6 separate regions of the Homo sapiens genome follow, and all the other regions are linked to region 3. Evidence: fine-mapped expression QTL. A gene starts in region 3. Each other region holds a variant in brackets. All regions are shown on one strand. Distances are from middle to middle. Region 1 overlaps SND1 (staphylococcal nuclease and tudor domain containing 1). Region 2 has its middle 51 kb from the start of MIR129-1. Region 3 holds the start of LRRC4 (leucine rich repeat containing 4). Region 4 overlaps LOC105375490 (a long non-coding RNA gene). Region 5 overlaps SND1 (staphylococcal nuclease and tudor domain containing 1). Region 6 has its middle 33 kb from the start of MIR593.

Region 1 (5,000 bases), 28 kb after region 3:
ACTAATACATATTTGCCATTCGCAATGCACAGTTTTTAAAATGTGCATGTAAGTGTGTGGCAGCTAACTGTCCTATTTGGGAGGTGGGGGGAGGATACCCCATTACCTTTCCCCAAATGAGAGTCAAGAGACTGTTCCCAGTGAGGCTGGTCAAAACACACATGCACGCACACACACACAAGGATCCACCATTACCTTTTCCAAGTGAAAGTCAAGATACTGTTCCCAGTGAGGCTGAACACACACACACACGCACGCACGCACGCACCCTTCCCATGCTTGTTTCTCTAGGGCAGAAAAAGAAGCTGAGAAGAACTGTCTCCACTCTACATTCCTGGTGGATACAGAACCCTCTAAGAACAAGAACACTTCCTTCACCCACAGCCCTGCTAAGGCCAGACCCTGGGCACCTCACATTCCCCCAGGGTCAGCTGAAGTTACTACTTGAAGGCTCATGAAGGGAATGACAAACCTTTGCACCTTTGGCAAAAGCAGAGCCAGTTCACAGGGGTCATGGACTTTTCACTCAGCACACTCATTTTACATTCTGTGGAAAAAGATAACAAAGGAAGGCTGTGTCCTTTAGAAAAAGGTCGGGGGCTGGGGGTGGGGACTTGAGAAGTGCTGGGGGAGACTGCAGCTCCATCAGCTGATGCCGTATTGCCTCTGCTAGAGAGCCCAGCACAGGTGGGGAGCTCCTCAAATAAAGCAAGCCTCGGAGTTGGAGACCAGGCTCCACAGCAGTTTTCCTGTTCAGTACCTGCAGTCTCCTTCTTCACCCAGCTTTGATTACAGGAGTCAAACACAGTGGTTCTCTCATTCCTATCAAAGCAGGTTGGAAAAAGAAGTAATCCCAACTGTAAATCAGCAACCTAACAGGCATTGGGAGAGGTCACTGGTGGCTTGGTAGGAAATGGATAGCTCATGACAAATGAATTGGTACTGCCTGCCATTTTTTCTTGCCATCACTTGAATCAATAAGGGAAAAGGTGAATTGCTATTGATCTCTTCAACACCTTTCAACGATACTGTACAAATTACAGAAACACAAGGGGGCGGGTGAAAGAATGAAAGAGGAAGGACAGATGAAAGACTGTCTGGGCGGTGTAAGCCTGCATGTATTTCCCTGGAGGCAGTCTTCCAGTCACTGGGTGTTAGGCATGCGTGGGTGCACATGTGAGTGTGGCATGAAGAGCCCTTTCTCACACCTGGAAGGGCTGAAGGGCTGGCTACGGAGGGCCCCTCTGCACCTCACATGCTGGCAATGCTCCAACAGGGCTACTTCGCTTGATACAAGGCTAGATTATTGAGAGGTGCTGTGAATCCCAAGGCCTCATGAATTTTTGAAGTTGTCACACGTTAGTGGTGTTGGGATAGGCTATCTCAACAACTGACTATAATTCTGGACAGGAAAGCAAGAATCAAAAGCTTCAAGGGCAATCTCTAGCTATACCTTACTAACCTCACTCCCTGGCTGACATGCCCAGAAAATATAGACAGACAGCAAATAAGGCAAAGCTATCTTGCTTCGTACTTGAAAATAACAAAGATTACGGCAGCTAGGGCACAGGCCTGTCCTTTTAAACACTCTGGGCAAAAGACATGGCATGAATATCAGAGGCCTGGGTCCAAATGTTAGAGGTCTGGCTGTAAACCTAGGGTGAAACGGATACTGACCACACAGGCAAGATTGCAAACTCTATGTAAATACGGCCTTATGCAGACAACCAGGAAATAAGACACACGGTTATGATGGCTGGGGATAACAACCCATAACACAAAGATGAACATCTGATGTCTGTTTTCATCTTTAGCTCAGGAATAGTGCAACCAGAGCGGCAAAGACTGAAGGAACCCCTAAGTCCTCTGGGACAGATTCTCTTTAGGATATGCTGCTTATCAGAAGCCAAAGTCAGTACTCTACTCATGTCCAGAAAAAGGCAATGCAAAAGATTTCATGGCATAGAGAAAAGGAAATATTGGCCAAAGTTTAGTCCAATGGGGAACATCATGGTCAGATCTCAGGGTCCCAGGCCAACAGTTCTCCTATTCTACCAACTGGGCATAATTATTCAGTTGCTGGTGACAGAAAAAAATGTTCTGACCAGAGGTCCCTCTTCAGGTCACACAGCACTCTTAGTGCATCATCTGGGGTCTGGGTGTCCTTAGAAACCTCCCCACCACACCTGAGTATTCACCTTTTAGCATTCTCTAGGCAAAAGAGGGCTTAGTTCTTCC[ATT/T]TTGCAGCTGGCAAAACCAAGGCAGGCAGTCACTGACATGTAAAAACAATGAGAGCCCTTCACAACGCTCCTGGCACCCTTGCTTAATCTCCAGAAACTGACTCAGGGTATAACTGTATCATTCAGAAATCAGTTGATATCACAGTTAGCCAGTCTACCCATCTTCCTCCCACAAATACATCAAGGGCCAAAACATAGGGCAAAAAAAAAAAAAAAAGAAAGTAAGTTACAAAGCTGCTGATGTGTTAGAGTGGAAATGCTGAGATTAGGAGGAGGAAGTGGTTAAGTGCACCCTGGGTGTTTGGAAATGGCCACGTCTGCAGCCCTGGAAGCTGATGAAGAAGGAGCTCTAGCCCTCTCTGCCAGGCAGGCCACGAGACCAGCCCCTCACTCCAGAGGTAGGGAGCTTGGCTGTGAAAGGGCATGATGGTAAGATACAGCTATTTAGCAAACACCAGTCCCCTCCCACAAGGCATCTTCAATTCCAAAAGTGACCCTATTCTAAAATTACCAAGTGGCAGGTGGCCAGGCCAAAAATCCATATCCAATCAGTGCTAATGGACTGTTTGTTGCATTTCCTCATATATGGCTGCAGCACTGCTATGAAAACCCTGGGTCGGTGGTTTGAGATTTATTTAACTGGAGAGGTAACGGCACCCCAGCACCGCAAGCATTATAGAGATGTGTGAAGTGAAATGGCACATGCAGGCTGCTGGTGGGGAATGGAGGGACCTGTTGGTCTTATTTGCATGATCTTCCACCTCTAGCTGTACACCCAATGCCAAATCCTTTTCTGGTAACCATTAAAAAGAATTCGACTGCATCAAGAGAAGGGAAAGGGGAGAAGAGGAAGGCATATGTTAAGCTGAAAAGGAAAACAGCACAGTGAAGCAGTTTCCAGTTCCTTCTTTCATTCTCGGTTCAAGAGGTACCTGTTCTTGCTACAGTGACCCAAACGCTTCTTCTTGGAGGCCTTTTCCTATCCTTTTCAGTCTTGTTTAACACCTAGATTTTTCTTTTTCATTTTCATTTTTTTCTTCTTTTTTTTGGAGAGTCTTGGCTCTGTTGCCCAGGCTGGAGTGCAGTGGCACGATTTCGGCTCACTGCAACCTCTGCCACCAATTCTTGGCCTCAGCCTCCTGAGTAGCTGGGACTACAGGGATGTGCCATCACACCAGGCTAACTTTTGTATTTTCATTAGAGACAAGGTTTCGCCATGTTGGCCAGGCTGGTCTTGAAATCCTGGCCTCATGTGATCCCCCTGCCTCGGCCTCCAAAGTGTTGGAATTACAGGTGTGAGCCACTGTGCCCAGCCTGTGTTACCACCTAGTTCTTTCTTTAGTGCTTCTGCTGGCACTGTGCTATCTATCTTCCAACTCTTCAACTTAATGCAGGTCAAGGACAAATCTATGGCAATCCTGGATTGTTGTGGTCATGGTAGGAAAGTATGGAGACACAAAGGAGCACTGCTATTCTGTCAGAGGATAAGGAAGCCTGTACCAGCCAGGATCTAGTTAGTTCATACCCGTATCCCTCATTTTCAAGTTGCTGTGACAATGTCACAGAGGACCTGCATCAACAGAAAAAGCAGAGAGCCCTCACTGTTGGCAGATTAGTCTCCAAATACCCCTATGGCAAGTGGAGAACACTGCAAAGATGGTCAAACCATTATTCCTTAGACATCCATGAGGTATGTGTGGAGTCCTGGTGTCACCCCTCCCTTGGTGATCACCTTATCAGTCCATAGCCAAGTCTAGAAAAGGCATCTTGCATAGGTTAGGACTTGCTGGCATTATCTCCAGACCTTTGGTTTTCCACTGAATGTAATACTGCCTAATGTGTGGGACCATGAGGAATCAGAGACAAAGAGACCTTATGTTATTTTACTTCACAGAATAAAAGACTGGCTGATGTCCTGAGGGTACTTAAATAAATAATCCTTTGCAAACTTAGACCAAGGATGGAAAATAGGTTTCCGTTAAGTGCCAAATCCTCTCAACTGGTAGTAGTAGCGAGGATCCCTGTTTTGAGAAGGATCTGAGCCCTCAGCCAAAGCAGCGCGGTGACTGACTGGCAATGTCTGCCATGGGTGGACAACCCGAATAGGGGTAGCATATGCATATGTGCCATCACTGGCTTAGACAGGCTGGGGGAGTGAAGAGCACTGGGAGGGTTGTTCTTTGTTGATTCTAATCTGAATGCTGCTCACAACACACATACCTAGATCCAGCCTAGAACTCTACTCTGGTTTTGTACATACTGAAGTTCAAGTCCTAAATTTCAGTTAAGCCCTGAGAGAATTTCTTTTATTTTTTTTTGTTTTTGAGATGGAGTTTCGCTCTTGTTGCCAAGACTGGAGTGCAGTGGTGCGATCTTGGCTCACCGCAACCTCCGCCTCCTGGGTTCAAGTGATTCTCCTGCCTCAGCCTCCCAAATAGTTGGGATTACAGGCATGTGCCACCATGCCCAGCTGATTTTGTATTTTTAGTAGAGACGGGGTTTCTCCATGTTGGTCAGGTTGGTCTTGAACTCCCGATCTCAGGTAATCGGCCCACCTTGGCCTCCCAAAGTGCTGGGATTACAGGCGTGAGCCACTGTGCCCGGCTGAGAGAATTTCTATTAATAATAAAAATGATGCTGTAAGCTACCATTCACTGAGTGTTTAATATCTTGGGTTGTGAGGAACAGTTTACACATACACTTAATTTTCACAGTAACCCTAGTGAGAAGGTACCCTCCTTACATAGGTGAGGCAATTAG
Region 2 (5,148 bases), 120 kb before region 3:
TCGCCTTGGCCTCCCAAAGTGCTGGGATTACAGGCAAAAGCCACCATGCCCAGCCATTGACCCACCTCTGATTTCGGCCATGGCTGTGGTGGACAGTCCCGCATGAGCACAAATTCATCGCTTGCCATAAGTCGCCCCCTTGAAGCTTGTGCACTGACAGGTTTTCATTTCCTGCCCCGGGTTCTTCTCCAACTCTGTGTGAGCCCTCTTGGAAATGACAGGAGAGAGTCCTGGAGTAGTCAGCCTCCTTGTAAACCCAGCAACCTTAGTAACACCCCCTTCCCTTCCACGGGCCTCTCCTCCTTCTCCATCTCTCCCCATTTCTGTACTCTTGATTTCTGTGCTTGCATCTCCAATACATGACCTGTTCTCAAGTCTTTAACCCATACTTTGTTTTGGGGGGACCTAACTTTAGACAATAAAATTACATGGTTCTACGAGAGGGTATGACAAGGGGATTGAACCTGGTTGGACTTCCTAAGGCCTCCTTAGCAAGGTCTTCTTAGGAGGTGATCTAAACTGAAGAGACCTGAAGAATAGCTAGGAGTTCTCCAGAGGAGGAGATGGAGGATGGATGTGCACAGAGCCCGGATGTGCAAAGGCCCTGAGTCCACACTGGGCATAGCATCTTTGAGGAGCTGAACAAAGACCATGGGGGCTGGAGCGATCCCTTGGGAGGAAGAGTGAAAGGAGGTGAGACTTGGATGCAGAGCAGGCCTATCCCGGGGAGCCTTGCACTGTTGAGAACTTCTGATCTCATCCTAAGACAATAGGTAGCAACTGGAGGGTTTTAAACAGGCATGAAACAGATTCATACATTTTTTAAAGATCATATTGGCTGCAGTGTGCAGAGTGGATGGGAGCAGGGGAGAAATGAGACAATTTGAATAGTTCAAAGGCTGATCAAATAATCCAGGGACAAAAATCATGGTGGAGGGAATGGAGGGAGGGGCAGATTCAAGGAGGAAGAATTTGGAGCACTCAGTGTTGGGTTAGATGTGACAGTGAGGGAGAGGGATGAGACAAGGAGACCCTCGGACTTTCAATTTGAGAAAGTGGGTGGCCACAGTGGAAAATACTGGCAAAAGCATGGATCTGAGAAAGAAGACAAGCAGTTCTATTTTGATTTAGTTTGAGGTGTCCCTGAGAATACCAGTGGAGAGAGCCCCGAAACAGTTGGAATGCTCCGAGGGATGGTAAGAGACAACTCCTGCTGGCCTCAGAGGATCGCTTCCCCACTTCTTATAAATCAGCCGTTTGCCACTCAGCCCAGTGCGGAGCTTGGAGATGCTCCTTTCTAGCACGGCCACTTCCTTGACCAGGGAGCTTCCACTGTCACAGGGCTGCACAGATGTTTCTGCCCACCCCACCCCCGGCTCTATAAATAGGTACAGTAAGAGAAGAGTCCCTCCCAACCAAATGGTTCCAAGTCTCATCTTTAGATGTCTCCATCAGTATCTGTGAAACAGAGTCTAGGAAAAAGACTAAAAAAGCTATCTTTATTTAGCCTGGAGAAGAGAAGGAGGGAGAGCTGTGATTCTGCTAGGAATAAACTGCTGCTCTTATCTTTTCCTCCTAAGAAGGCCCGAGGAGGTGGATTTGGGATACAGTTAGAGAACTGATTCTCAAGGGTGGAAGATTTTTGCTCCCATCCACTCCCACCCTGGGACATTGGACACCGTCTGGATGCATTTTTTGGTTATCAGAACTGGTGGTGGGTGGGTGTGGGGTGCTACTGGCACCTGGTGGGTAGAGGCCAGGGATGTCTGGGCATCCTGCAATTAATAGGACTGTCCCCACGACAAAGAATTATCTGGCCCCAAATGTCAATAGTGCCCAGGCTGAGATACCCTGAGTTGGAGGAATCTTAGTTACTTAATTTCTTTTGAAACAAAGAGCAAGCAGTCCCTCCATCCGACTTAAGGGAAAGGGTATTTTATTTGCATGTTTGTTTAGGGTTACAGGTGGTTGGGAGCTGGGATTAAGACA[C/T]GACAGCAGTCAGGGACCCAGGTCTCTCAGCCATAATTTCCTTGTTTCTGTTTCTCTCTTCTCACTGCTGATTGGCTAAACCTTTAAAAATTCTAAAGAAAGCAACCTGATAGACTCAGCCAATCATCACTGCTCCCTTCAGAGACACCATCATAGGCCACCTTCTTTCACTCTGGCCAACCGGTGAATAGAAGAATGCCTTTTGGTCAGCAGTCCACCTCTCTATCCAATTAGAGGCCACTCTTCTGCAAGGAACAGTCTAGACACCTTCCCTGGATGGGAGACTGTGAGCAGGGCAGTGTAAGTCACAAGAAAATGTTGGAACCAAACACACCAGAGCCGGCATTTACATTGGTCTTCCTGGCACACAGCTATCTTTTTCTTGCCATAGCAAAGATAGGGCTGAATACAAAGCTCTGATTTTCCTTCTTACTCCAAAGCTGCACTGTCCTATATGGTAGCCACTAGCTGCATGTGGCTATTTATTTTATCTTATTATTATTATTTTTTTGAAACAGGGTCTCACTCTGTTGCCCAGGTTGGAGTACAGTGGCGTGACCACAGCTTGCTGCAGCCTTGACCTCCTGGGCTCAAGAGATCCTCCCGCCTCAGCCTGCCAAGTAACTGGGACTACAGGCATGCACCACCACACCTGGCTGATTGTCCTGATTTTTAGTAGAGACGAGGTCTCACTGTGTTGCCCATGCTGGTCTCAAACTCCTGAGCACAAAAAATCCTCTCACGTCAGCCTCTCAAAGTACTAGGATTACAGGCTTAAATCACCACGTCAGGCCACATGTGGCTATTTAAATTTTAATTATTTAAAATTAAATAAAATAGCAGGGCACGGTGGCTCACACCTGTAATCCCAGCACTTTGGGAGGCCGAGGCGGGTGGATCACGAGGTCAGGAGATCGAAACCATCCTGGCTAACACAGTGAAACCCCATCTCTACTAAAAACACAAAAAATTAGCCGGGCGTGGTGGCGGGTGACTGTAGTCCCAGGTACTCCGGAGGCTGAGGCAGGAGAATGGTGTGAACCTGGGAAGTGGAGGTTGCAGTGAGCCAAGATTGTGCCACTGCACTCTAGCCTGGGCGACAGAGTGAGACTCCATCTCAAAAAAAATAAAAATAAAAATAAAAATAAATAAATAAATAAATAAAATGAAAAATGCAGTGCCTCAGTGGTATTAGCCACATTTCAAGTGTTCTGTAGCCTGGTGTGGCTAGGGGCTACCACATTAGATGGTGCAGAGAATATTGCAATTATTGCAGAAGTTTCTGTTAGACAGCACTGATGCAAACAAAGATACTGACCCAACTGGACATGAATTGAAAAGAGGTCTTAGGGTTAGCCCTGAAGAACATCGGAGTCGTCTTGGATTCATTCACAGTCTTTAAAGCTACCATGTGTGAAATGTGTGCAACTGTTTGTTACGGAGTTCATGTCTCAGCTTGGTATGTCCCCAGCAATTATATGCCTCTGCTCACTGAAGCAAGAGCTTGGAGGATAATCTTACCTGAGGAGGACTGCGGTAACTTACCTATTTAGAAGGGTGCTATACATGTTTAAGAGCAAAGAGTAGTTGAAGAGCTACGAATAGTGCATAATCAGCTTTTCAAACACCATGACAATAGATGACACACAGGAATTTACAGCTCAACTGAACAAGAGCACGTGACCAGATTGTTAGCCACAGTGACACAGGACTTGTGGTGGGTGGCTGTGGAAGCACCTACAAGATCTTACTTTCCCAGCTCCCATCTTTCTCGCCCTCTCCTCTCCTACCCCGGTCTTGTCTTGCCTCTAAAGGGAATGCATTTTCTTCCCACTGTGTGGTTGTCATTACTGCCGTTCATCAAATACTCCCAGCCCTCTCCTCTCTGCCTTCCAGGCACAAGACGGGATTGCATGGCCTGTCCCTTGTGATTGGGGCTGGGCCCACATCACTGATCTGGTTGGCCCCCTGCACTCCTCCAGCTGCTGATGTGAGAACATCCAGAGGTCTCTTTCCAGCACGGCAACCGGCAACATTCAAGATGCAGCTGCTCCACCGTCCTGAATCCCTGAGTGTCCCCGTGTCCGATGGCCCTGTCAGCCCCTGATGGAGGTGTAATGACAGCATAAAACAAACCTGGGTTGTTTTCAGACACTGAGATTTGGCTATTGCTTTGTTTTGCAGCATAATCTAGCCAATCTGGCCTGGTGACTGAGCCTTTCAAATAGTTACACCCCAGCCTTACCGTGTGTACATTGCTGTCTGTTGTATTTATTAGCTGAGGCTGTTTCCTGTTACTTAGAAAAATAGGTGAGTTGAAACTTTCTGTATTTGTGACAGTCACTAAACTTGGATGTTGACATGACTAATCTTTTTTGTTAATACAGATTGGGGCTTTTTATACTAGAAGAAAGGGGCCCCTTCACCTGCTGAGAAGGGGAAACCTTTCTTCCTTACACTGGTTAAGTTGCAGCTGTCTCCTTGCTTCCTTGCATAATGACCTTAAGGCTGACAACACATTTGGAAAAGGAACTCCTGGTGGTTAATAACAGCAGTGAATGCAAGAGGAGAGTAAAACACTGAGGAGGAACTGATGGGATTTTTTTTTTTCCGAGACAGAGTCCAGCTCTGTTGCCTAGGCTGGAGTTCAGTGGCATGATCACAGCTCACTGCAGACAGCCTTGACTCCTGGGCACAAGTGATCCTCTCACCTCAGCCTCCCAAGTAGCTGGGATCACAGATGCATGCTACCATGCCCAGCTACTTTTTGTATTTTTTGTAGAGACAAGGTTTCACCATGTTGCCCAAGCTGGTCTCCAACTCCTGGACTTAAGCAATCTGTCCACCTCGGCCTCCCAAAGTATTGAGATTGCAGATGTGAGCCACCATACCCAGCCGGAATTGATGGAAATTATTTCAATCTAGGATACAGAAGTCTCCCTTCTAGGGAAATAGATACACAACTCCTAGGCTAAGAAAGGCCTCATTCATTCATTCCTCAACAAACATTCATTGAGCATTTAATAAATGTTCTGCCCAGATGGAGCTTATGTCCTGGTGGGGGTGTCAGACAATAAGCATGAGGACAAAAGTGCAATGAAGGAAATAAACAGGGACTGAGACAGAATGGCTGAGGGAAGGAGTGGACAGGGAAGGCCC
Region 3 (5,000 bases):
CTCAGGCAATAGATGACTCTACTAGGTCGGTGCCAGCTATAAAGGAGCAGAACCTCTCACCAGAAAGTCTGAGTGCCCAGATGGAACTAAACCCCAGTATCAGGGTTTGACTTACCTCCATGTCTCCCTCATTCTTTTTCTTGATGAGAGTTCATTTTCTCAGCCCGTCTCCTACCCTTCATCTTACTTCTCTGACACATCCTTCACTGAACTTTCCTACAGTCTCTCTCTCCTCCCCCCTCCACTTGCCTCCACCATTTACTCTATGAAGAGTAGACACAGCGGGCATTCCTGTTAGTGATGAAAACATCGGACTCAGGGTTTGAAGGCTGGATGGAAAGGCTGGCTCTGTTACTTTCTAGTGTGTGACCTTGGGCAAGTTATTTGCCTGCCTAAGCTAAGTGCCTTCATCTGTGAAATGGAGACAAGTGTGGCAATTACTTTCACTGGGTAAATGAAGATTAAACAAGAACAGATATAAGTTCTTGGTATGGTGGATAGTACATAGTAGATAAGCATCCCAGTAAATGACTATTGAAGTGGATGAATGAAACCTGAGTTCTCATCCCACTAGGAGAATACTTTGGGGAATCACTTCCACACCCAAGTTTCTTGACATCTGAGACGTGCTGAGGCTCAAATCCACTATCACTTACTAGTGACCCTAGGCAACGTTTGACTCATATAAAATGAATAATAGGGTTGCAGTGGAATACAGAGTAAGGGTTCAATAAACAGAAACTAACAAGGTTATTATTTGACAGCAAATGATAACAGAAAGGTCTTGGCAAAGAATGGGGACTCCAACTTGCCTACAAAGGAACCGTTTCCAGGACTTCAAGTATTCCATGGCGTATTTAAAGAGGTTCAGGTTACTGGGCAAAAGACAATACTCAGAAATAGGTGTGGTAGAAACCAGAGAGCTGAGAAATCTGGGACCTCCTCGTTCTTAAGCAACAGCCCACGCGCAGGTGATGAGGGTTTATCAAGCGAGCCTGCCAGAAATCACACGGGGAGAGGGGTGGGTTGAGGAGTCTGGAGGCAGCTCTTGAAGGGAAGGGATATTAAACCATGCTATATTCTACTGGACCGGCTTCCCAGGGCTCAGCTAGATTGCCTCACCCACAGTCGGCAGAGAAAGGGGCAGTCTTTTTTCAGGGGGGTGGGAAAAAGCTGACCTAGTCCCCTTCTCCTACACTAGTCTGTCAAATGCCTTAGGGTCTCCTACCAGAAATAGGAGCAAGAATTCCACCCCCACTCCCAATCGCTACCCCTGGCTGCTACGCAGTTCTTCTCAGAGTCCTAGCCAAGGAAGGGCTGGCGAGCTCACAGGGCAGGGGGCTCAGCCGCCCGCCTCCCTTCCCCCAGTTCTCTGGGGGCAGCGGGGAGCAAGGGGCGACTCCGGCCAGCGAAGACTGAGAAGCCGCGGCTGCAGCTCCATGAATGAACGGGCTGTGTCGTGGGCTCCGGGAGTTCACCTCAATCCTTCCTGCCGGCCTCTGTGCTGTCCCAGGTTGCCATTCCCCAGCTCATCACACTTGGTCATTCCTGCCACTGTTTCCCGCCCCCGCAACCCTCATTAAGGAAACCCTCATTTAAAGCCCCAGTGAGAGCACAGGAGGGGTGAGGCAAAGCGAAGGAGGGGCTGGCGGCAGTGCAGCAGCGAAGCCCGGGCTCTCGGTCCTGGGAGCCTCGTGGCCCCGGCCGCCGTCCCCCGAGTCCCCACCACGCAGTTCCGAACTCCGAACGCGAGTCCGCGCCCCGTCAGCAGTCAGCGGGGGTGAGGATGACGCGGGCCGGGCGAGAGGCAGGCCAAATGCAGCAGCCCCGCCGCGGGCCGCCGGGCCCCTGAGCCCCGCTCTTCAGAGCCAGGGGGCCCCGGGTGCGGGCCGGAGGGCGGGGGCCGGCGCGGGCTCTCCCGCCGCAGCCCCGCGCCGCTCCAGCCTATCAGCGGCCACCCAACTGCTCCCTCCGACCGGCCCAAAATAGCTGCGAACGCCTGCGACTTGCGCGCGGCCCCTCACTTGACGCTCACTCCGGCTCGCTCGCCCGCTCGCCCTGGCCCCGCTCCGCTCGTCTAGAGGGGGCGGGGAGGAAGCGGCCCGGGGAGGGGGGAGGGGGGAGGGGGAGAGAGGAAGAGAGGAGGAAGGAAGGAGGAAAGAGGAAGACGGGCGGCCGGAGGCGCGGGGCTGCGCGGCGCCGGCCGGCGCGGCGCTGGAAGGCGCCGGCGTTAACCCCGCGAGGCAGGCGACGGAGGGGGAGCGGCGCTAATACATAAGAGCACTGCATCACGCTAATCTTCTCCCAGAACAGTATGCGTCAGCAGTACATTCACGTTCTGACTGAAGGACAAAAGGATGAGAGAGCAGTCTGCGTGGCTGCCGCCTGCAACACCGCGAGCCCGGCGCGAGGAGGAGACGGTGGGCGCCGCGCGCAGGGGCCCCGCTGCTGCTGCTGCCGCCGCTAGCCAGCGGGGACTATGTTCCTGGGCTCCGGAGCGTTTCCCGCAGCCGCGACCCCCGCTGCTCACGCCGCTGCAGCAGTCCGCTGGCGGCGCGGCCACTGAGGGCGCCGGGAGCCGAAGCCGCGAACTCGCTCCCTCCGCACAAAGCCGGAGCCGGCGGCGCGCCGGGGGCCGGGCAGCGGCGGGCGGCGACGGGCGGTTGCGCGCCGCCGGGGGCTGCGGCCGCCGCCGCCGCCGGACCCGCGCCCGCCCCCGGACTCTCTGAAGGGGCCTGCGGTGCGGGCGCGACCGCGGGCGCCGCGCGCTCCTCCGGCCGGCGGACCGGGTCCGAGCGCAGCCGCCACGCCGCTGGTCCTCGGGGGCCGGACGGAGCGCCGCCCCGCGTGCCGGCAGCCGGCGGACTGGAGAACTGACCCCCCGTTTTTGTCTCTTCCACCCTCCGAGAAGAGGCGAGGAGAAAGGGGGTGTGTGTCTGGGGAGGGCGAAGGCGCCGCGAACACCTCCTCTTAACTCTCGCCGCTCCGCGAGCTCACGACCGCAATCAGCTGCCGCCGGCCCGGAGCGGCCGACGCCGGGAGAGGGAGCGCAGCATCCAGCGAGTGCGGCCTGGGCGGCTTCGGGGCGCCCCCGCACTCCCTCCGGCGGCGGCCCGCAGAGCGGGCCGGGGCCGCCGGAGCGCACTTTGGCGATGAAGCGCCTTCCCCCGCGGCTGGAGCGAGCCGGTGCCAGGGTCCAAGGACAAAGCCGGGAAGCGCTGGTGGCGCCGCTCCTTGGGCGGAGGGGGGGGCATGCACCTGCATAGCCCGCCGGGCCTTGGCTCTCCCAGGCGCGCCTCAACTCCGCGGCTTCGCCGGCTCCGGCTCCGGATTTACTAGAGGCCATTTTGTCTCCCCCACCCCTTCCCTCCCCTCCCCTCCCCTCCCCTCTGCCCTCCCCGCCCCCACCACTTCCCCCTTTTGTTAATTAAAACTAAGAAGTCGGAATGGGAACGAGGTGCCCAGCTCCCGTGGAGAAAGCTTAAGGACACCACGCCAGTGCTTTCCTGCCTTCCTTCCGAGGTAGGTGACGGCGAACTGGGTGGGGACGGTTGCAGTGTGGGAGAGTCGTAGCTTTCGGAGGGCTTGCCTTGAGGGTGGGTTGGGAGACCAGGGGCCGCTCGAGTTTGGCAGGATTTTTTTCGGCCGATCCGCTCCGTCTCTCTAATCGCCCCCTCCCCACCTCCTTCTCCAGATGGAAAGAGGAGCTCCTAGCTCACTTAAGCCGGGGTAGGGCTGGTTCTCCTTTCCGAGCCAAAATCCCAGGCGATGGTGAATTATGAACGTGCCACACCATGAAGCTCTTGTGGCAGGTAACTGTGCACCACCACACCTGGAATGCCATCCTGCTCCCGTTCGTCTACCTCACGGCGCAAGTGTGGATTCTGTGTGCAGCCATCGCTGCTGCCGCCTCAGCCGGGCCCCAGAACTGCCCCTCCGTCTGCTCGTGCAGTAACCAGTTCAGCAAGGTGGTGTGCACGCGCCGGGGCCTCTCCGAGGTCCCGCAGGGTATTCCCTCGAACACCCGGTACCTCAACCTCATGGAGAACAACATCCAGATGATCCAGGCCGACACCTTCCGCCACCTCCACCACCTGGAGGTCCTGCAGTTGGGCAGGAACTCCATCCGGCAGATTGAGGTGGGGGCCTTCAACGGCCTGGCCAGCCTCAACACCCTGGAGCTGTTCGACAACTGGCTGACAGTCATCCCTAGCGGGGCCTTTGAATACCTGTCCAAGCTGCGGGAGCTCTGGCTTCGCAACAACCCCATCGAAAGCATCCCCTCTTACGCCTTCAACCGGGTGCCCTCCCTCATGCGCCTGGACTTGGGGGAGCTCAAGAAGCTGGAGTATATCTCTGAGGGAGCTTTTGAGGGGCTGTTCAACCTCAAGTATCTGAACTTGGGCATGTGCAACATTAAAGACATGCCCAATCTCACCCCCCTGGTGGGGCTGGAGGAGCTGGAGATGTCAGGGAACCACTTCCCTGAGATCAGGCCTGGCTCCTTCCATGGCCTGAGCTCCCTCAAGAAGCTCTGGGTCATGAACTCACAGGTCAGCCTGATTGAGCGGAATGCTTTTGACGGGCTGGCTTCACTTGTGGAACTCAACTTGGCCCACAATAACCTCTCTTCTTTGCCCCATGACCTCTTTACCCCGCTGAGGTACCTGGTGGAGTTGCATCTACACCACAACCCTTGGAACTGTGATTGTGACATTCTGTGGCTAGCCTGGTGGCTTCGAGAGTATATACCCACCAATTCCACCTGCTGTGGCCGCTGTCATGCTCCCATGCACATGCGAGGCCGCTACCTCGTGGAGGTGGACCAGGCCTCCTTCCAGTGCTCTGCCCCCTTCATCATGGACGCACCTCGAGACCTCAACATTTCTGAGGGTCGGATGGCAGAACTTAAGTGTCGGACTCCCCCTATGTCCTCCGTGAAGTGGTTGCTGCCCAATGGGACAGTGCTCAGCCACGCCTCCCGCCACCCAAGGATCTCT
Region 4 (5,148 bases), 480 kb after region 3:
AGTCCAGACCAGCAAACACATTCAGGAAATCATAAGAAAGATAAAAAGCCTACAATGCTCCAAGGACGAGTTTTTCTTTTTTCTGTTTTTTTGAGATGGAGTCTTGCTCTGTCACCCAGGCTGGATGGAGTGCAGTGGTATGATCTCGGGTCACTGCAAGCTCCGCCTCCTGGGTTCACACCATTCTCCTGCCTCAGCCCCCCGAGTAGCTGGGACTACAGGCGCCCGCCACCACACCCGGCTAATTTTTTGTATTTTTAGTAGAGATGGGGTTTCACCGTGTTAGCCAGGATGATCTTGATCTCCTGACCTCGTGATCCACCCGCCTTGGCCTCCCAAAGTGCTGGGATTACAGGCATGAGCCACCGCGCCCAGCCCAGTTGTTCTTTTTTAGAGTGTTTATGGATCCAGAATTGAGCTGGAGAGTTGAGTGGTGGGATCATTAGGGAAGCAAGAGCCTAGGAGAGCCAGAGTGACAAGATTTTAAGTTCAGGGTCATCTTGAAACTAGCAAGACACATTCCTTGCCAGTCATCACCAATGGTCCTAAGATGTTTATAGTTGAGAAAACCTACAAGGACACATTCCTACAACAGAAAGTCCAGATGTCCTAATACCCATAACAATATATGCTTTCAAGATAATTATATTTATGCTTTGATGTACTCACCCAGTGAAATGTCAAAGATAGTTTTCTTTAAATCAGTGTAATAATACATTTTGTTATGCTCTCTGCTCACCTGCATGTAGTCACAGCTTAGTTTAGTCTGTACATAGACAAGACCCCCATATAAGAAAAACTTAAAACAGAGATGATGTGTTCCTTGGCCTGCTTTCTGGAGATGCCCTACTCTGCAATGGAGTAGTTTCTAATAAATTTGCTTCTTTCACTGTGCTCTGAAACTCGCCTTGAATTTCTTCCTGTGTGAGATCCAAGAACCCTCTCTTAGAGTCTGGATCAAGACCCCTTTTTCCTGTAACTGGATGGAAACCCACATAATACAATTTATTTCCATATATGGTGTAAAGTTATCTAATTCCAGCATTTCATTGCTAAATATGTTGAGGTTCTGACATTAGAGGCTCAGGAATGTACTGATGAAGATAGTCAGATGGATAACACTGGCTATTTCCCCTGGTATATTAAGCACAGTTTGTTTCTGAGGTATCCAGTAATGATTTGAAGTGTGCCCATGAGCAGCTTTGGGCTCAATTCTGGCATTCATGTCTTAATTAGGTGGGTTTTGACTCATCATGATTTAGTTACCCATTTTTCTTTAACAGAGCGCCTTATTTATTTTATGCAATTAGAAGGGAAATGACAGAGAAGACCATTAACTCTACCTTACTGTACAAATCCCAGAAGTAATTAGGGACTTACATAAACAGTGCATCTTAAATTATTTATTTGACAATCTCTAATAACAATGCCAGCAGTGTCATATACTTTATTCTTCATTAAAGCAAAAGTGATTATCCTGCTATATAACCTAATCATCTGAAAAATTTAATTCCCATAACAACATTTGTTATTACTGTTTTGTTTTGTAGAAGGGCAGATGAAAGACAGAATTTTGACACATCAAATTGGACTGCAGCACAAAAGCCAAAATAAGTGTTTCTTCCACTAGAGGGCTGGTGCTTGGTCTGTTTTGGAAAGTCCTTCCCCCGGATGGTAGCAGGTGATGGAGTTGGGCAGAATCTAATTTTCAGCAAGTTTTAATTTTTTCACTGCCTGGATGAATTCTAGAAATAAATGTTGCATAAGCTAATTTTGGTGGGGTTGGAGGGTGGTCCTAGAAAGATGATTGATTTGATAAGATAATTTGAGGGGATTTTTAAACTTCCATTGAGCAAACAATTCAACATTTACTGGAACCCTCAGATCTGTGAGGATGTGGGATAGATGACAGATACCAAGTTAATAAGACATTGTTTCTGGCCTCAATGAGCCTGGGCTACTAGTCATCAATGTTTCCAGTTCTCCTTGGGCACTTGGTCACCTGCCTGAAGTTAGGCATGGTTATATCTTTTGCTTTGACTTATAGGAACTGTTATGGACTGAATGTTTGTGTTTCCCCACCTTAAATTCATACGTTGAAATCCTAACACTCAATATGATGGTATGAGGAGGTAGAGCCTTTAGGAGGTAATTAGGTCATGAGGGTGGAGCCTTCATGAATGGGAGTAGTGCCCTTATAAGAAGAGTCACAAGACATCTGGCTTCTTCAACCCCCCCACCTTTTTCCCTGCTGTGTGGGGATACAACAAGAAGTCAGCCATCTCTAAACCAGGAAGAGAGCCCTCACCAGACATTAGATCTGCTGGCACCTTGATCTTGGTCTTCTAGCTTCCAGAATTGTGAGCAATACTTGTTTGTTGTTTAAGCCACCTAGGCTATGGTATTCTGTTATTGCAGCCTAAACTAAGACAGGGACCCTGGGGAAGATTCCCCTTCCTTCTTATCTCTCTCCTAACAAGTAACCAGTGAGTTTTCTTTTTACTGCATCAAATCTAGCCCATCCTACTTATCACAGAAAGTAAGATAGACTTCCCATCAAACCTGGTGATGGACAATCAGTGATGGACAGATGCAAAGCACAATGATCAGCATGTAACAGGTCTCAGCAAAGGGTATTTTTCTTCCCACTTTCATTTAAAAAAACTAATGAATTTTTAAAAAAGCTGAATCTGTGTGTATTTTTCCTACAGCAATGTCTAGAAATGTTTACA[C/T]GAGAGAGTTCTTCATTTTAGGATTGGGTAACAGCCAGTATAATTTTACAATTACAATATGTGATAGAGTCTGCTAATTATTTCCCAGTATTTATTCACCTCTTCTCCCTTAGCAATAGCATCTCAGGATTTAAGTGGGCATACTGCTGCCTCAAGCCAGAAGGCATTTGCCATGCTCCTTTGCATTACCAAGTGACTACTAGACAATGAGATATTGCAACAAAGTGTTGTATGGGATTTCTGTGAAGCCTCTTTTTAAGGGAGGGGGTACCTCTGTTTTTTCTTTTGCTCTCTTCTCTTGCCTGGGATGTAGATGCAGTGGCTGAAGCTCTAGTAGCTGTTTTGGACCATGAGGATGAGGGCCCCATATGAGGGATGGTGGAGAGTCAGCTGGAAGGTTCCTGGGTCCTTGGTCACTTAGTGGAGTGCCTTACAAGTCATGGACTGTCTACTTGTGGATTTCTTTGATGTAAGATAAATAAATTTCTAATTTGTTTCAGCCACTGTTTTTTAATTAAAATTTTTAATTTTATTAAATTTATTTTTTGTAGTAAAAATAATATAAAATTTACCATCTTAACCATTTTAAGTATACAGTTCAGCAGTGTTAACTATATTCATATAAGCTACTGTAGTTTTTTTAATTATATGGAACCAAAACTAATGCTAACTAAAACACAGTGGTTTTTTTTTTTTTAACTGATCTTCAATAAACTAGTTAAATTAACAGACTCTCCATCTCCTTAGTAAAGTGTGCTAATCATGGCCATCACATGCATACTCCCAGCTATTAAACTGTTCTCTAGGACAGTGGATCTCGATTTACATGTGCATCAGAATTACCTCGAGATTTTCTGATTCTGTGAGTCTGGAGTGGGGCCTGAGAACTTGACATTTCTGATAAGTTCTCAGGACTTTGATGCTGCTGGTCTGGGGACATACTTGGGGAACTACTGATCTAGGACACCATAGCCTTTGGTTTTTATCAGCAGAGCTGAATGTTAATAGGAAGCAATTGTATTTGTTCTTACACTGATTATGTGTATTGTATTTCTGATTGTCATTGTGTAATTTAACTAAATACTACATTCATCTATGAGAATTTAGTTGAAAAAATATTTGTTTCTATGAAAACTAAATCAAATACTTTGTAACAACTTAATGTAGGTATTCATTAAAATAAAGCTACCAAGTGAGATTGGTAGGGCCACTGTTAAATATCAGAATAAATATCTATCTATCTATCTAGATATATCTATATATCTATATCTAAAGCAATTATACACTCAAGTTGCTTTAAAAAGAGACTTTAATTTATTGTTTTACTTTAAATAAATTAAGTCTATAAATTGTAAATGATGTGTTAATGCTGGAATGAGTTAAAACTTTGGTGGACTGTTGAGAAGGCATGATTGATTTTTGAAATGTGAAATGGAGATGAGATTTGGGAGGGGCCAGGGGCAGAATGATATGATTTAGTCAATAAAGACAATATAGAACTTTAATCAGTGGATCCAATCTTTAAAAAAACCCCTTTGGAAAGTTGGCAAATGAGTGCATACTTAAACATTTTAAATTAACATTCTAAGTTAAAATAAAATGTTTAAATTAAAATATGCCTGGTGTGTTCTTTGCTTCCTTACTTTTTCAGTTAACTGATTGCTTAGCCTGGGTTACTATAATAAAAATGCAGAGCATATGAAAATGGCTTATGTGCTATTACTTTAATGAGGAATGCTATTTAAACAGAATGAAGAAAAGGGGAGGGAGAGCTAACATGAGAATGCTGAATTGCTCTGGACTGCACTTAGATTCACATGACTGATTTACTGATCTTGTACAACTGTTTCTGATGTGGTTTGGCTCTGTCTCCCCAGCCAAATCTCATCTTGAATGTAATCTGAATTATAATCCCCAGGTGTAGAGGGAGGAACCTGGTGGGAGGTGATGGGATCATGAGGGTGGTTTTCCCCATACTGTTCTCATAACAGTGAGTTCTCATGAGATCTGATGGTTTTATAAGTGTTTGGAAGTTCCTCCTTCATTGCTGTCTCTCCTGCCCCCTTGTGAAGAAGGTGCCTGCTTCCCCTTCTGCCATGATTGTAAGTTTCCTGAGGCCTCCCCAGCCATGTGGAATTGTGAGTCAATTAAACCTCTTTCCTTTATAAATCACCCAGTCTCAGGGAAGTTCTTTATAGCAGTGTGAAAACAGACTAATACAGTAAATTGGTATGTCAGAGAGTGGGGTACTGCTATAAAGATACTTGAAAATGTGGAAGAGACTTTGGACTGGGTAACAGGCAGATGCTGGAACAGCTTGGAGGGCTTAGAAGAAGACGGGAAAATGTGGGAGAGTTTGGAGCTTCCTAGAGACTTGTTGATCATTTTGACCAAAATGCTGATAGTATATGGACAA
Region 5 (5,000 bases), 270 kb after region 3:
GGAAATAACTTTAAATATTGATGGTTATCCATCCAGCCCTGTCCCCTCCCAATTGTACTTAAAAGAGAAAGGACTTGACTATAAACTGTTCCTGATCCTAGACAATGCATCTGACCATCCTGAAGCACTTCAGTTTGAATAAAACGACACTAAATGGATTTTCAAGAATAATTTTCACTATATACAATTTTCGTCTCATACTCTGACCTTAGATTCTACCCCTGGGTAAAATATAATTCTATTGTAATTTGTCATTCTGATATTTAAATAAAAACCACAACTCTGCTATTTGATTAGCTATAGATAATATGAGCACCATCTATACAAGCTGGAAACCTGAGAAAAATGGCTCTTCCAACCACAGGGATGTTCACACAAAGACTCATCGTCTCTAAATTTTTAGTCAGTTTTATCCCTTCATTTGAAAACATTCCTCAACTATCAAGATCATAGAAAACCTCTCTGTTCCATAAAAGTCCCCAGTGATTCAGACGGCTATACTGACAAGGCCACAATTATAAATGGAAATTATGAACTTACATAACAAAGCAAGTTTGGTGGCCATTCTGAGTCACTGAGCATACCCAAAACAGGTATTTGCCACTCTAATCCCTTTGTAATCCTCTCCTACTTGTAATTCTGCCTCACAAGTTTGTTATAAGGGAAAAGTATAAGGACCTTTGAGAATGAACAGTGAACAAGATAGAAAAGTAGTCAGTTAAAAGACAGATTTTGATTAAAATCAGAGAACACAAACATTGCCTCTAATAACGAAAGATGGAAGGTGACAGGCCGCTAATGAGGTGGTGAGAGATAACCATGGCAGCTCACCCCCACCAACCTATTCTATGTCCCAGATTATGCTGGCTAAAGAGCTGCGGCATATTCAATTATCAAGCCTAGTTTTACCAGGGGCTGACAGGTACGTATGGAAAGGGGTTGAACAGAATGAACGTTCTAAAAATTAGGCTTCAGATGGTGCCTAGTCTTCTTCTGTGAATGTGTTTATTCTGCAGCCCCTCTTTCCACACCAAAACCAATGCTTCAAGGCCTAATATAAACTGCAGGGTTTGAGGGCAATTCCTAACATGCGTACTGATATACCATATATGTCTGGCTCTACTCAGAGGTAAGATGTATCTATATAAGATTATAGAATTTAAGGAAATAAACATTTGCTCCATTGATTCTTTAGAATGAAGGAGAAAGGGAAATGAATGACATTTACAACCTTATATGACACTGCTATCCAGAGACTGTGTTCTGGTCCCCAGCACTGATCAATGAAGAGAATTAATAGATTTGTTAGAATCATTATTAGAACCTAAGAGTTATTAGAACCTCATTAGCAGAGTCCAATTACAGACAAAAAGCCAAGCTATTTTAGCTGAACATTCATACCAATGGAAGAAAATAGAACCTTCTTAATCACTTTCATTATCAAAACAGACTCCCTGCTGGAGCCTTTTAATTGGAAGTCTACCATTTCAAAGACATTTGCATTTTATCAAACTATATTGACAGGGCTAATAGAAATAGATTCGAGGGCCTAGCTTCACATCTCCCACATATAAGAAGGCAGCTGTGGTGATCTACTGAAACAAAACAGGAAGACCAGGATAGGAAGCTGGGCCCCCACCATGCAAGCATCTGGTTGGAAATCTCACCACACTGTGAACCAGCTCTTCTCCTCTTCATGTCTACTACATTAAACAGTGGAAAGGGATGGGGGAAGGGATACTGAGAAGAGGAGAACGGCACCACACCTAGTCATTACATATAAAATGTCCCAAAGATAAAGGAATGCCATCAACAAATGAACAAAAATGAGAAGTAGGATGAGTAAGTGACGATTAAGTTTTGCAAGCTAGCCACTTTGTACCCTAGATATATCTCTCTCTCTTCCCATCTAACACACACTATATCTAAACATCTAGGGTGCCACAGTGTTATTGCCATGAGCTGTATTTTGTTATTTATAGAGGCTATAAAAGTACACAGCACTTTACAAACCACAAAACGCAGGCACCAGAGCCTGGAGGAACTCAGCCTAAATTACATACAAACAGTGGTGGGGAAAACAGAAAAATACATAGTTGCACCAAATTTTGGCAATAGCAATTCTGGGAGACGGTAAGATAAGAAAAAAACTATTTTTTTTTTTTTTTTTTTTTTTTTTTTTTGAGACAAAGTCTCGCTTTGTCACCCAGGCTGGAGTGCAGTGGCGCCATCTCGGCTCACTGCAAGCTCCGCCTCCTGGGTTCACGCCATTCTGCCTCAGCCTCCTGAGTAGCTGGGACTACAGGTGCCCGCCACCACGCCCGGCTAATTTTTTGTATTTTTAGTAGAGACGGGG[T/C]TTCACCACGTTGGCCAGGATGGTCTTGATCTCCTGACCTCGTGATTCGCCCGCCTTGGCCTCCCAAAGTGCTGGGATTAAAGGCATGAGCCATCGCGCCCGGCCTAAGATAAGAAAAGAACTATTAAATAGTAACCAGTACAAGGGTCCACACAAAAGAAAATCAACCCATCAGAATCCAAAGCTTTAACTCCTGGAAAGCAAAGAGTTGATATCATCACAGCAGATCTATGGCAAGTGCCACCTTTGGCATTGTCTTAGTCCATTTATGCTGCTATAACACAATACCTGAGACTTGGTAATTTTATAAATAACAGAAACTTAACTTCCTCACAGTTCTGTAGGCTGGGAGTCCAAGATCAGGGCACCAACAGGTTCGATGTGTGGTAAGAGCTTAGTCTTTGCTTCCAAGATGGCACCTTGTTTGCTGCATCTTCCAAAGGGGAGGAGTGTGGCGTCCTCACATGGTAGAAAGGATGGAAGGGGCAACAAAGAGCCCAAATTCCCTCCAACAAGCCCTTATATGTGGGCATTAATCCATTAAACTTTCCCAAAGCCCCTACCTCTCGGCACTGTTAACACTAGAAATTAAGTTTCCAGCACATGAATTTTAGAGGACACGATCTGACCACAACAGCCATCAAAAATGAATTTTGGTTTTCTAATCATATGATGCCATGTTCATCCAAGGAATATTAAAATGTGAATGCCACATAAACATCTAAATGCTTATAAAGAAGAAATGAAAAATGGGTCAAAATATGATCTTATAATAGGTGTGGGAGTGCTGCAAACCTATTAATTATATTAAGTTCAGCCCATTCAATTGATGGTTACACAATGCTCATCAGCTAAGGGAGCCATTAGATCCTTTATCTTTCTTAATTGGAGGCCTTAATCTTCTAAAACTTCTATAAAGGAAGAATTTCCAAGAGTCATAGGGAGCTAAAATACAAGAAATTCTCTCCAGGCCTCAGCCTCGAAATATTTAATTGAAGGATTTAAAGCTTGGTCCTTACTTCAGTACTCTCAGCACTTACAAGAGATTGAGAAAAATGGACAGACAGATGTTGTTAGTATCAAGTTTTACCAATTACTAAGGGCCTAATGTTGCCACACGATTCTGTGATATTTTACTATTCTCACTGTGCACAGAGCTTAAGGGGCTTCCTCAAACACAAAGAAGATGTCTGAGTGAGACATATGTCTGAGTGAGACGTGCCAATCACAAATACTTGCATGAGGATCTGTATTCTAACATATCACCACAAATAGTCAAAACCAGCCAGGTTCATTTTTTTTAAATGCAAATCAGAAATGCTCAATGGTTGACTGTTAAATGAAAATCTGCAAGATTCTGGGCAATTCCTCGACCTCTGAGCTCACTGAGGGTAAACATCACAAAAAGTCTCTTGTTGCTACTTTTCTAATAAAGACCACTACAGAGTCCAGTGGCATCATGGTGTGTTCCTAGATGTCATTTGTAGTCAAAATTGAAAATAATCACCTAACTGATTCTGATGGTCTTCTCATAAATTCCTCTTTAGTCTCCCAAAGAGAATGTTACCAACTCGTTGCAAAAATCAGGCTTTAATCTCCTCCCATTCATCAACAGCGACACCAACCCCCATCTCTATTCAAGGGGGAAACCATCTGCAATAGTTCCGCCCGATTTCCCCTGAAATTTTAGCTTCCACTGCCTGGTTTCTGAACCCTCAGCAATGGGAGCAATTTACCTCGATCGACTTCACCAGTCACTGTTGCAATTTAGCTAAGACATTTCCCAGGGGCCCATTAGAAAAGGTTCCAATTTGAAAAACTCACATCTGATCCTTCAAACCAGTCCTGGAAACATTATTTGGTACCAAGTTAGACATTATTCTTTTTCAGATTCCAAATCCTTTACTTTGACACAGAAATGCAAATGGGAAATTTAAAAAGACAGCATTTCTGAAAATCAGCTCAACGAAAACTCAAATACACAAACATTAAAAGATATTCTGATAATAAGCACAGCCTGCCACATCGGTGTCAAAGTTCTGATTTGGTTTGGTTTTGTTACTCTACTCTATGCAGGCAAACTAAAGATGGCAGCCTAGGGCAGAGGAAGCCTTCAGCAGCATCTGCAATACAGCAACACCACAAACTTAATGAGCATGGAGTTCCTTCCAGAGTTAAGGACCATGAAAAGCCAAATTGCACTATTAAAATACTTCGCATTCACACACACACTGTACCTACTCAGTGGAGCTAACCAAAAGAGATGTGGAAGTGGAAGTACACATAATGTGTGGGAATGGCCACAGGGTAGGTGATAGCTCCTATGGCAAAAGAAACAAAAAGTGTTTTTTATTATCAATAAGTAAAAAGTCAATGGCAACCTTCAGTTTGCTCTTATGAAATCGCTAATATTCAGTTTAGAATTACATACTATCCCATAAAAAATTGTATCATTATTTGAAATTAATAGGAATCAGCAATGTATGTCAGTAGGTTTCAATTTATGCTTTTCTTTCTCTTGGGTTTTTTGTTTTTTTGTTTTTTTGTTTTTTTTTTTTTTGCGACAGGGTCTTGCTCTGTCACCCCAGCTGGAGTGCAGTGGCTCAGTCATAGCTCACTGCAACCACCTCAGCCTCCAAAGTAG
Region 6 (5,148 bases), 83 kb before region 3:
TTTCATCTGCTCTTTTTACAGTGTGACCTTGAGTCAATGTCCCCTCCCATCAAACCTGGGCGGCCCTTTGTGGCTGGCGAGGCCGGACGGTGGTGCTGGCCGAGGACATGGGGCGTGGTGCTCTGTGACATCCAAGGCTGGCTGCCAGACAGGAGTGAGTGGGCTTGGATGGTCCCAGGACACTGTGAGGTCGGGACACAGGCTGCAAGCACAGGCCTCAGGGGTCTGGCTTGGCCTGCTGCTGCCCTCCTGTCCTGCCTGGCCTTCCCCACCCCACACCAGCCACAGCTGTCAGGCGTGACAGGAGCCTGTGCCCTTGCCTTCGCAAGGCTGCATGGCCATGCTGGGTGGGACAGCTGTGCCCAGCCTTGCTGTCTGGGCTGCCCACCCACAGAAGGAACTTGCCCAGGTGGTTTGAAACCCTTCAAAAATGGCCCCTGAGGTTGTGTCTATTGGTCCTGACAAAGAGAGGCATTTTGGTGGGGGGTGTCCGTGGTAGGCAAGTGGCAGCCAAAACCTCGGCTCCCAGGCCTGGCCAGCAGCCCCTGCTGCACTTGGTTCCTCTCACCAGAAGCCTGGGCAATTCTGGTCAGGATGCGGCCCTCACTGCCCCATCCCCCACACTGCGAATTCCCCACATGCTTCCCTTCAAGCTTAGGGGCCGCGTGGCGAGAGGGCCGTCGCCCTGCGGGACAGCGGGCCCATCTGTTGATTCCTCTCCATCTGTCTCTCTAGGGTCCTTCTCTTCTCTGCCCTTCAACATCATTTTCAGAAGAGCATTTCCTCCGCCTCCGTGTCTAGCCCATCTCCCCTGGCCTGGCATCTGCTCTCAGCTCCAGGTGCCTCTGTTGGTGTTAGTCCATTTAGATTGCCTGGAGGTGTCTCTCTTTGTCTCCTTCCCAAGGCTCTCTTAGTCTTGCCTCTAATGCTCCCACCTCCAGTCACTCCGGGGGAATCTACTGAGCACCTAGCAACAGGCCTCAACACTCACCAGCTGTGTGGCCTTGGGCAAGCTACTCAACCTGTCTGTTCAGATGCCCCACTCTCCTCGCCTGACAGTCTTCCAGCCCAGATGTTCTGCCATCATCCTATCTCCTCCTGCATTTGCAGAGAGGGGCAGGAGTCCAGGGAGCTGGGGGCTTGCCCACTCATGCCAGCATCAGAGATCTACAGGAGCTGATTCCTCCCTCCTCCCCATGTCTGGCTTTGGGGCGCTGAGATCCCTGGGAAATGGCAGCTCAGGAGGGGTCTTTCTGTTTGGGAGCCATTTGCCACCCAGCCTGGAAGGAGGCTGCTGGGGAGGGCTGCTCCCTCCCAGGAAGAGCCAGTGAAAGAACAGCCGCTGTGGTCCCTTGGTGGCAATGGGACAGTTGCAGCTTTCCACAGGGTGGATCATCAGGAGAAGGACAGCAGCAAGCCCAGGAAAGCCCAGGCAGCTCAGCCACCCTTTTCATTTATTCAAGCCCTTGCCATCGTGCCAGGCCTCGCAGGTGTTTCCTGGGAGATTCTGGTGTCCCTTTTTCAAGGGACATTTGGCTGGGAAGTTTCAAGAGTCCTGTCAGTACACGATGCTATGACTCACTCAGCTATTTCCTATGTCCCTCGGGCTACCCTAGCCAGACCAGAAGCTTCCAGAAGGCGGAGTCTATGCCACCCCATCCCTGAATCCCCACAGTCCCCGTTTCCTGGGAATGTGGTTAGAATGACTATCTGCCGATGTCACCGACACGGAGGTGACTGTGGACACTTCAAGACTCTTGTCCATCTCTAGAAACTGGTGGTCCTGGAAGTGGGTCCACAAGACCCGTAAGAGCCGGGAGAATGAAGTCACCACTGTCACTGCTGTCCCCATCCCTTGCTTTCTGAGATGTGACTTCCTATCCTCGCTCTACGGAGAACAGCTGGAGCCATGCTGAGCAGTTCTAGGGGAAGACAGGACAGGCCGCTACCAGCCCCTTGTGAAACACTGGAGTTCAGGAGGAAACATGGAAAATGAACAGAGAAACATCATCCCCCACTTTGAGCTTCTCTCGACAGACACGCACACCCTGCACAGAACTGGGCAGGGAGCAGGCAGGCTGGACACAGGGAGGGAGGAGCCAATGACAGTCACTCCTAACGATGCATGACCACTGAGAGCAGACACTCATGGAGCCCCCACTGTGTGCCAGGCACTGGGCTCGGCATGGTTTCCCCTGTTTTTCAC[G/A]ACAACCCCGTGAGACAGATCCTTGTATTATGATTCATATTTTATAGACAAGGAAAAATGAGTTGCTGAGAGGGTAACTCTATCAGAGACACACACACAGCAGCAAGTGGCAGCACCAGGACTTGAACCTGGGTGGTCTGACATGACATCAGCCCTCTACCACCATGTCAAGAGCAACCTTACCTCACACCTAACACCGGCACTCAGCCCCACCATGCCTTTGGAATAGCGTTCTGCCAGTGCTAAGTGTGCAGTCCCATATTGCCCCAGGCTCCCTGGGCAATTTGTCTCAGTCAGCTCTTGGCTTGATAAGGCTGTGTAATAAAGCACTCTCAAAAATCTCAGTGGCTTGCAATAAAAAGCATTTGTATCACGGGTCTGCAGGTCAACTGCAGTTTGGCTTCATTTATTAGCCACCTATTATGTGCCAGGCACTGTTTTCTGTCGGACCTTCAGGATTGAGCCATCCAGCCATGGAGATATACATGAAACTAACAATAACGAGAAATGCAGGCACTGTGACAAAACCGTGGAAAGTGCTAGGGAGACCCAAGGAGAGGGAGTGGCCAATTCTTCTCTGAGAAGAATTGGGGATAGAGAGTAACACACAGGCTGGGCTTTGAAAATACAGTAGAATTTCAAGAGACAACGAAGGTGGACAGGGTGTTCTAGAAAGTGGGGACCATGTTTAGCAAAGGCATAGGGTGCAAGAAGAAATGAGGAGCATTGAGTGGGCTCCATGCAGTCTCCTTTGCTGAAGAACAAGGTGCGTGAGCAGGCATGGGTGAAGCAGGAGGTTGGCCACAGATTAGAAAGGGTCAGGCCCAGCAGTGGGAGAAGTCTTTGAACTTTTTTAAGCTGGAGAGTGGACTGACTAACTCCCAAAGGGGAGGAAGACAGCGACTGAAGGCAGGAAGATGGTGAGGAGACTTTGGCGGTTCTCCAGGTAAGAGACGTTGCAAACCTGAAGCCAGCTGGACCAAGGACATGGCTCAAGTGGGAGCCTGGGTGTGCATGATCCCAAGGTGAGGGGGCCAAAAGGTCCCCCTGAGAGTTCATGCAGTGTGTGACAAGAAGCAATTAAGGAATATTTCTGTGAGGCTCATATTTTGACTATCTTTCGAAAGAGGCATTATTAAAATGTTTTCTCATCAAGGGCAGCAGAATTGAGATAAATCCACATCCTAACCCCTACCCCAGGTGGGTGTTCTGCAGAATCCTCACTTACCCAATTCCTTACTAAAATGTTGGTTCTTTGTTTTGTTTTGCTTTAAACCAGATTCATTCTTTTAAAAAAAAATTTAAATTTTTGTGGGTACGTAGTAGGTGTATATATTTATGAGGTAAATGGGACGTTTTGATACAGACATGCAATGTGAAGTAAGCACATCATGGAGAATGGGGTATCCGTCTCCTCAAGTATTTATCCTTTGAGTTACAAACAATCCAATGACACTCTTTATTTTAAAATGTGCAATTCAGTTATTACTGACTATAATCACCTTATTGTGCTATCAAACAGTAGGTCTTATTCATTCTTTCTATTTTCTTTTGTACCCATTAACCATCCCCACCTCTCCCAACTCATTTTTTTGGAGGCACACATAATACATGCTGGACACACAGGCCCACCCAGGGTCTACTCTCTGTGGATCACAGACTGTGCCCGCAGAGAACCAGCCACAGCGAGGGGTCTGCACGTGCCTCCCCGCCAAGTGCAGACAGATGGCCCTGGGTGCCCAGCTCTGGCATGGCACTCAGAATGTCCTTCAGCAGTGACAGTCAGATGCTCAGCACAGACAGGAAGCAGTCTGGGGCTGCATGACCGAGCCAAGGACCCACAGGGAGCCCAGAGGAGTCAGAAGGTCCTCATACCCTTTCCCTAGGCTCACTCCGCAGCCTGTGCTCCCCACATTGAGGCCACCCCAGCCAGATCTGAGGCAAGGCCACTGAGCAGACAGACACCTGCCTAGACATGAGAAACCCACCAGAGTCTGAGAAACTCACGTGACCAGCTCATGTCAGGAAAGGGAGGGTGCTGCTGCAGCTGGGAGAGGTGCTTATTTTTAGCCTGCTTATTGGCTGGGGCTTTGCAGACTAAGATGAAGCTCCTGCTCCTCACTGATGCTGTTATTTCTCCCCACCGGGGCTGGGAATTGGTTTATCTTCCAGGTAGCCACCTCAGCAGCCGCCCGCCGCAGCAGCAGGCCCCAGGCAGGTTGCTGTGTGTCTATTATTTTTGATTGCCCGTCTTATGGGGCATGAAATCACTTCTGGGAGGGTGTGAGCTTGGCACTGCCCTCGCTGCCGCTGGAGAGGGAGCAGGAGGCAAGGTCTCCTGAGGGTGCAGCTGAGGGTGTGGTTACAGCCAGGGGTCCCGGGGCCGTGGGCACTCCTACACTGCTGTGGGCCACGCCTTCTGGCTCTGAAGGGGCTGAGTGAAAGGAAGCACCCGAGGGAGGCGGTAGGAAGGCTTCAGCTGGGAGGCAGGGCATCGACTTCCAGCACCGTCTCTGCCCTGGCTGGTGCTGCTGTGCGCCCAGCCTTCCATGCCCAGGGAGTGCTGATGTAGTTTGGTGCCTCAGTTTCTCTTTTCTGCAAAATCAGCAGGGCCATGTTCTCTTTATGGGAAAGCTCTAGGGAAGAATTGCTTACCTCTTCTAATTTTTGGTGGCTTGTGGTGTTTCTTGGCTGGGGTTGCATAACTCTAAATCTCTGCGGCTCTGCCTGCCTTCCTCAGACAGTCTTCTCCCCTGTGTCTCACGTCGCCCTTTCCTTTCCCCTGTAAGGACAGCAGTCGCTGAATTTAGGGCCCACCCTGGATCTCATCTTGAAATTCTTATGACTGTGGTCTGAATGTTTTCTATACAATTCATACATTGAAACTGGATCCTTCGTGTGACAGTGTTAGAAGGTGGGGCCTTTGGGAGATGATGAGTTCG

Evidence for each region.
Region 1: its variant is fine-mapped to the expression of LRRC4 in blood mononuclear cells (TOPMed, PIP 0.91).
Region 2: its variant is fine-mapped to the expression of LRRC4 in whole blood (TOPMed, PIP 0.98).
Region 4: its variant is fine-mapped to the expression of LRRC4 in whole blood (INTERVAL, PIP above 0.99).
Region 5: its variant is fine-mapped to the expression of LRRC4 in whole blood (TOPMed, PIP above 0.99).
Region 6: its variant is fine-mapped to the expression of LRRC4 in blood mononuclear cells (TOPMed, PIP above 0.99).

What each region holds. Positions count from the first base shown.
Region 1 is chr7:128,001,496-128,006,495 of GRCh38, reverse strand. All of the region lies in intron 16 of SND1 (staphylococcal nuclease and tudor domain containing 1), which reads right to left. Among named protein-coding and RNA genes, the nearest start is that of SND1-IT1, 6.5 kb to the right of the region's middle. The variant ATT/T (reference allele first, on the strand shown) is at 2,239.
Region 2 is chr7:128,154,063-128,159,210 of GRCh38, reverse strand. No RefSeq gene overlaps it. Among named protein-coding and RNA genes, the nearest start is that of MIR129-1, 51 kb to the left of the region's middle. The variant C/T (reference allele first, on the strand shown) is at 1,990.
Region 3 is chr7:128,029,435-128,034,434 of GRCh38, reverse strand. LRRC4 (leucine rich repeat containing 4) reads left to right here and starts at 2,998. Exons shown (of 2, transcript NM_022143.5): 1 at 2,998-3,522; 2 at 3,695-5,000. The coding sequence starts at 3,795. The region is part of intron 16 of SND1 (staphylococcal nuclease and tudor domain containing 1); the gene reads right to left. RefSeq lists silencers at 1,715-1,784, 2,435-2,554.
Region 4 is chr7:127,546,945-127,552,092 of GRCh38, reverse strand. The region is part of intron 1 of LOC105375490 (a long non-coding RNA gene); the gene reads left to right. Among named protein-coding and RNA genes, the nearest start is that of GCC1, 36 kb to the left of the region's middle. The variant C/T (reference allele first, on the strand shown) is at 2,733.
Region 5 is chr7:127,763,955-127,768,954 of GRCh38, reverse strand. The region is part of intron 10 of SND1 (staphylococcal nuclease and tudor domain containing 1); the gene reads right to left. Among named protein-coding and RNA genes, the nearest start is that of SND1, 110 kb to the right of the region's middle. The variant T/C (reference allele first, on the strand shown) is at 2,357.
Region 6 is chr7:128,111,991-128,117,138 of GRCh38, reverse strand. No RefSeq gene overlaps it. Among named protein-coding and RNA genes, the nearest start is that of MIR593, 33 kb to the right of the region's middle. RefSeq lists enhancers at 245-761, 762-1,278. The variant G/A (reference allele first, on the strand shown) is at 2,207.